Homo sapiens: one gene and its partner. The protein of the gene in region 2 interacts with the protein of the main gene of each other region in a pairwise test. Each region holds a gene or a part of one and is shown on either strand. Other genes may lie near its edges.

The links.
Region 1: the proteins of EPS8L2 (region 2) and RIN3 interact in a two-hybrid assay, tested with the Homo sapiens proteins (one large-scale study listed by BioGRID and IntAct).

The regions. Positions count from the first base shown.
Region 1 is NC_000014.9:92,684,781-92,687,137, reverse strand, and holds part of RIN3 (ras and Rab interactor 3), read right to left. Parts: intron 2,152-2,357; coding exon 1,988-2,151; intron 1-1,987. UniProt on the Homo sapiens protein: Ras effector protein that functions as a guanine nucleotide exchange (GEF) for RAB5B and RAB31, by exchanging bound GDP for free GTP. Required for normal RAB31 function.
Region 2 is NC_000011.10:724,624-729,082, reverse strand, and holds the end of EPS8L2 (epidermal growth factor receptor kinase substrate 8-like protein 2), read right to left. Parts: intron 4,360-4,459; coding exon 4,254-4,359; intron 3,356-4,253; coding exon 3,236-3,355; intron 2,986-3,235; coding exon 2,913-2,985; intron 2,780-2,912; coding exon 2,599-2,779; intron 2,465-2,598; coding exon 2,332-2,464; intron 2,183-2,331; coding exon 2,102-2,182; 3' UTR 1,356-2,101; downstream 1-1,355. UniProt on the Homo sapiens protein: Stimulates guanine exchange activity of SOS1. May play a role in membrane ruffling and remodeling of the actin cytoskeleton. In the cochlea, is required for stereocilia maintenance in adult hair cells.

The DNA.
Region 1 (2,357 bases), on a different chromosome or scaffold from region 2:
GGCCCGGAGCGGCCTCGCCTTCCCCGGGGCTCAGGGCTGCAGGCAGAGAGGCTGCGCGCGGGGCTGCCCCCTTGTGGCCGGATTGGGAACAGCAGGCCTGCGCGGGAAGCGGCTGAGGATCCCGGCTCGGCGGAGACCGTGATGGCAACTGGTGGCTAGGGCTTAGGCGAGGCCGGGCTCCTGTCAAGAGCTTCACGGGGACCGCCCATTTCTTCCAGGAGGGGAAAAGCCCGGCCCACTCCCTCCGTCTTAGTGGCTGCCTCAGGGCTCCTTGTCCTCCATTAGGCCTCCCAGGGCACTATCCACCTGCTAGTGACTGTCCAGCTCTGGGCTTCCCCTCCCCAGGGAAGGGTGCCCACCCCCCAAGGCATGGTGTGCGGAGGAGGCACTGGGAGGGGGCAGAGGGTGGTGCCCTCCCCAGATCCCAGATGTGGTGCTGAGGGGACCCCCCTCCGAAGCTTCCGTCTCCCAAACAGTGGGTGGTCCGTTTCATCCATACTCTGCCTGGCTCAGCATCAGGAACCCCTAAGGTAGAAGCAGGAAGTACGGGATGCCTGGGCCAGGCTTGGACCAAGAGTGTCCATGTCCCTACAGTCTGTGGGAGTCCGGGGTGTTGGGAGGGGATGGGAACAGAGGTGTGCTGGAGCTGGCTCACACCCGCCAGGGAGAGCCGACTGCATACACTTCTTTCCAACTCCACATTCAGTGATGCCAAGTTGAAGTTGGCCATGGAGGACTCACACCATGGAAATGGACAGAAGCTAAAATCAGAGCTTTTGTTTTCTCCCCAGAGAGTCAGTTATTAAATTGATTAGCCATAGTCAGCCTGTGTGGGCAGGAAAACTGAGTCCCAGAGTGGGGCAGGGATTGCTGAGGGTCACACAGCAAGCTAGTACAGGGCTGGGGCCAGAACTCAAGCCTCCTGTCTCCCAGGCCTGGGCTCTGCTTATTATAGATGCACCATCTTGAAAGCCAGGAGTGTGGCTCAGGACTGGTCTGCTCTGGGTGTCAGAGGAGTGAGTCTGCATAGCTGCTCACAGCTCTGGATGTGCCTGGCTCACTAGTCCAACTCTCACCCTTTTTTACACACCCAGTCCTGCTCTGTCCCAGGCCCTGGGCTTGGCGCCCCTGAGGCATGTGAACCATGGGCTGTGCCCTCCCAGAGGTGACAGCTTCATATGCAGAGGATGATAGGATGTGATATGCACTGTAAAAGGGGAGGCCGCAGGAAGCCCAGAGGAGGGCACCCCACCCAGCCTGTGTGAAACGGTGTGTGTGTGTATCAGGGAAGGCTTCTCAGAGGAGGGGCTGTTGGAGAAACTGAGTCGTCTTAAAGGATGGGCAGTGACAGCCAGTGAAGAAGGGGAGATTGACCAGTGAGGGCAGCGGTTGAGCAGCCAGTGAACTGGGCTGGGCATGTTTGGGGAACTGGGGGCAGCTGGATTTGATGCAGCCTGGGGGTGGGTGGGGTGATGGAGTTGGGGAGGGGCGGGACTGGTTTGAATACTGAGTCTGTATAGAGAGAGGTATGGGGAGGGGTGGGCCACTGGGTTGGTGGGGGTTACGCAGACCCTTGGCAGCTGCTGCATTTGTCCAGGGACTAAGGAGCAAGGCTGTAGATGAGCCTGTGGGCTCCTTAAAGCAGGGACTGGGATGACAAGTCCCCATCTCCAGCCCCTGCAGGGTGCTGGGTCCTAGGAGGGGCTAAGGAATGATGGGTGTGTCTCATTCCTCCTGCACCCTTCCTGCTTGCCCAGGGAGAACACCAATGCCTGCTGATATGTTTCTAGACGCACCCAAGTCCTGGACACACACTGGCAGCAGGGGCTGGGGGCCCTTCCTCTGGTGTGGGGAGTCTCACTGCTCCCCTAAGGCAGGGCTGGGCGGCTGGAGCAGCCAGGTGATGTCACGGCTCCTTAGCCAGCAGGCAGCAGGGATGGTGTCTGGGACATGGCCCCACCGGGCCCCTCCCGCTCTCAGGCCTCACCTGTACGGAGGAGCGGGAGGCCCGGGCCTTGTTGAGAGTACGCCGGCGCTCCCAGCGGTGGATGGAGTCCTGCACCTCCACACTCAGCTGCCGGGTCACCGTGATCTTGTCGTAGCTCTTGATGTGCTCCAGGGCCCCGTAGGTGGTGGTCAGATAGTAGGAACCTGCGTGGACAAGGGTGTGGAATCTGAGCCAGGACCGCCTCCGCCCACCAGAGGCAAGGAGCTTGGCCTGCCCCACCCACCTCCTCCAAGCCCCGCCCACCACCTCTGCTTGAGGCACATCTGCAAACACCTGCTTCAACAGCTGAGCTCAACCCCACGCCCACCCTCCAGCCTCAGAAAGTTTCCTAGAGTCCAGCCCTGAGCTG
Region 2 (4,459 bases):
GCCTCGGACTCAGGGCTCCTGGGGTGGGAGCCTGCTTGGGGCCTAGGGCTGGGATCTGGGGGCTGGAGTCTGGGGGTCTGGCTTCCTGGGGCTCCTCAGCTGTGCAGGTGGCAGAGTGGGGCACAGCAGGTAGGGGGCTCTAAATGGGGCTGGGGGAGGTGGACAGGGAGAAGGCTGAAGAAGCAGGTGTAGATCTGGGGCCCTCAGAAGCTGAGCAGCCCAGCCTGGAGGCTGCATATGAAGCCCAGACCATCCTGGTGGAGGAAGGGTCCTGTTGCTGGGAGTGGTTGGGGAGTGGGCAGCCTCCCTCACTTCCAAGGACTGGCATCCTGGGGCCCACAGAGGCCCCTTTTGGAGCAGATATAGCCCCGGTGCCTATCCCCGTCCTGAGGTGGTGGCTCAGCAGGCAGCGGGAGCTGCAGGTTGCAGGGAGGAGGGCCGGTGCCCCCATCCCTCCCCTTTTCCTCTTGGACCTGTCTCTCTCACTGCAGGGTCCATCTGACAGGGTGGGGGGGCCTCTTCCGGGGGCCTGGAGGAGTGGTGGTGGCCATCAAGCCCGGGTCGTGGCTCAGAGGGCACCAGACAATCCCTGCTGCCCCGACCAGACACTGTGGTTAAGACTTGGCCTAGTGTGGCCTGAGCTGTGAGTCAGGGCTTCTGTGGCCTGGTGTCCAGGCCTGGCTGGGTGGTGGACCAGGCAAGGGACACGCCCCCCCCAGCCCAGCCCCACAGTCGCCCCTGCCCAGGCCAAGACCCCAGGACTGTGTCCCCGGATGCTCCGCACCAGGGTTGGGTTCACGGCTGCTATGGGGACACATGGTTGTGGGTTGCCCCCTGCCACCAATCCAGGGCGAGGGCACCCCTGGCGGCCACTCACGGCAGCACATGGAGCGGCCGGCAGAGGGCACCAAAGGCCCCTCCAAGGGTGCGGCTCAGGTGGACCGCCCATCTGGCGGTCAGGTGCCCCTCCCACGCAGGGTGCTGAGTGTGGCCTGCTCCCCCTTCTTGGGAGCCTCCGTCAGCCTGGGCTAAGATCTCCAAATCCAGTTTCAGCCTTGCCCTCTGACTCATGGCCCTCCTGGGGCCTGCCGACCGTCTGGCCGAGCTGGCTCTGTCCCCACCGCTCCCACTAGGGTTGTGCCCAGCGAAAGCCGGGCTTGGATGACACGCTTTGGGCCTTCTGGTCGCTGGGCCTGGGAGGGCCACAGGAAGAGAAGTGGGCAGGGTCCCCTCTGGGCTCAGGGGCAGAGCAGCCTGGCGGACGGCCAGCCCTCTGCCCGGCACTGCTTAGAAAAGGTGCAGTTTCCGGGGGCTCCAGGACCCACTCCGACTCCCAGAGAACTGAGACACACGGCTCCTGGGAGACTTAACTGGTTTAATTGCTTAGCCCTGGTGCCTCAGCCACCTCTCATCTGTAGGGTGAGACTCAAGTCCAGGCACCAAGACACACCAGCACCCCCAACACCATGCGGGGATCATTGGCCTGAAACTTGGCCAGAGAAAGCTCCAGTCCTGGGCCTGTAAGAGTGGGCGCTGGGAGTGTCTGAAGCCGGCACGGTGTCCCCTGCGTTGTCGGCCCTTGCAGGTGAAGTGTGTGTCGTTCCCCCACTTTCCCCCGAATGGCACCCACGGCCTCCTGCTGGAGCCCCTCCCGGGCCCCCCTCAGGGAGCAGAACTCTGCGTGTGTGCGAGGTTCAGCCTGGCCAGCCTGGAGCTCCAGCTCACCCTGGGGTGTGGATGGATGTAGAAGTGGGTGGGGATGGGGGAGCATCACAGGGGCCAGGACCCCCCAGGTGCACAGGGGAGGCCAGAGAAAGAGGCCCCAGCCCCAGGGAGTTCTGTGGCCTCAAGAGAAGGTGGACAAGGGGCTGGCACCACCAAGCAGCAGGTTTGGCTGAGATTAGTCTTGGTGTGGGCTGAGGCCTTGGGTACTGTTTGGCCTAAGGATGGGCGTTGTGCCTCCAGACAGGGGCAGGGACCTCTAGCCAGCACCACACCCCCTCCGTGTCCTTGATACAAAATACATACACATATAAAAATAATACTCCATGCATTGTGGGTGGGCTTCCCCTCCGCAGGCCCCAGCCCAAGGCAGCTGGGCCTAGCTGTCCTCCCCCCTCCTCTGATTCATGGAATGAAACTTGTTCATGAGTTCTTCCAGCTCCGACCCACTTTGCTGCTTCTAGGGAGGAGAAATGGGGGCATCCTCAGCCGGGGGTCCCACGTGTCTGGGTGCCGGCCTCCCCCTTGCTCTGCGACCCCAGGAACGGGCGGGGGAGAGGAGGGCGCAGGGGCAGGAGGGGCGTGGCGCCGGAGCGCAGGCGGGCTCACCTCCAGGAAGGCCTTCTGCATGGTGAGCTGGCTGTACACGCGGACGCCCTCCTCGCCGCACACTTTCTTCAGCTCCTCCTTGTTGAGGGAGAAGAGCTGCGGCCCGGTCAGGATGCCCAGGTTCTCCACGATCCTGGGGGCGGGCAGTTGGGCGTCAGGGCCGCGCTGTGAGCGAGGCTGCCTGGCGCCCGCCCCGACAGCTGCGCACCTTCGGCCGCACCTCCCACCCCTCGCCCGGGCCCCAGCTCATCCCCCGCCCCCGCTCACCGCGGGCTGAAGGCCTTGGCTTCCAGCCAGGCGCGGACCTCGTCCGGACCCGACTCGTAGGTGAGCGGCTGGCTCACGGGCTGGCTGCGCTCCACGCGGAAGTGCCTCTGTGGCTGCGCCCTGATGTTGCTGATTTTCCGGATGAGCTCGTCGTTGACCTCGTCCATGTGCTGCATGAGCTCTGAGGGGGCGCGCGACTCAGGCCCGCCGCTGCCTTGCCCCTGCCCCCGCCCCCGGCCCAGGGACCCCCCCCACACTTCCTCCCCCAGGTGGCCCTGGGCCCGGGACCCCCGCCTCGAAGCAGCAGCTCTCACCGTCTTTGTTCCCCGGGAAGCTTGGGGGTAGCTTGTGGGTCGGGCTGGCGGGGCCCCAGTACTTCTGACCGGCCTGCGGGGGCGGGGGGCGATTAGGCTCCCCACGCCCCGCCCCCGCCTCCCAGCACCTGCCCGGGACCTCCCCACCCCGCCAATCCCCCTACAGCCCCGGCCTGCGGACCAGCCCTTTCCTTCTGCCCAGGGAGCCCTGCACCTGCCCCAGTCTCTCCAGCCGCGGGGCTGGCCTTGGGGCGGGGCTAGGCGCAGGCGGGGCTGCTCCAGGAAGCTGGGGGCTGCGACCCCAGGGACCCCCGCGGGCTCACCTGCTCGAACGGGGCGCCGGCGTCCTCCGGTCGCGCCTCGCCTAGGATGTTGCAGGGCACGTACCCCGCCTGGCCGCTGCGGCTGCGCAGCTTCCACCACTGCCGGCCGTCCTCCAGCACCTGCGGGGCGCGCCGTCAGCCCCTCCCCACACCCAGGCTCTGCGGGGCTGGGACCACCCGCTGGCGCCGCTTTACAGAGGTCGGGAGCGCCCTAGGGTCTCCCGGAGCCCCGCTTCGCTCCATTCTCTCCGCACCCCTGTTTCCACCCCTCCATCCCTCGCTGGGCTGCTCCTCCCCCACCCTGCCTCAAGGAGTCTGGGGGACCCTTTTTTTCTCGGAGACAGGGTCTCACTCTGCCGCCCAGGCTGGAATGCAGTGGTGCAATCACTGCCCACTGCAGCCTCGACCTCCTGGGTTCAGGCGATCCCCCCACCTCAGCCTCCAGAGTAGCTGGGACCACAGGCACACACCACCACATCCAGATAATTTTTATGTTTTTTGTAGAGATGGGGTTTTGAGGTGTTGCCCAGGCTTGTCTCGAACTCGTGGGCTAAAGGGATCCTCCCGCCTTGGCCTCCCAGTGCTGCGGTTACAGGCGTGAGCCGCCGAGCCAGGCTGTGGATGTGGCCCACTCCCCCCTAGCCTGCTCCACTTTCTGTCCCCCAGTGGGTGGCCTGGATTCCGGCTGGCAGATGCGGCCAGTGCAGATGTGGGGGCTCCTGGGTGGGTGTGAATGACAGGCCCCCGCTGAGTCCACGTGGTGCAGATGCTCCCCCCAGCCTGGCACAGGGGTCTCTGCATGCCTTTGGGGAGCCCCAAGATGGGAAGGCCCCTCCAACAGGCTGGGGATCCTGATCAGAGTCCAAGGGCGGGGACCCTGGAGAAAGGGGCCAGCAGCTGTGCCCCGTCCTGGCATCACCCAGCCTGGCCCTAGACCGCTCCCCACCTCCCCTGGTAGCCCCTCCCTTGAAGCCCTGCCCTGTTTCCCCCTCTTGGACCCCGTCCTCCAGCCCCTCACCTCTAGGACCTCATCCTTGAGCACCGATAGCTCGTTGGCATTTCGGGCTGTGAAGTCATACAGGATCTTGACGTACTTGGCCATGGCTGGTGTTGGCTGGTAGCCCCTGTGAGGAACAGGAGGGGCTGAGGCCCAGTCTGGTGGGGGTCTCCTCTGAGACCTGGGCAGTGGCTGGGGGGCAGCAGCTTCCCAGGTGCACGACTGGC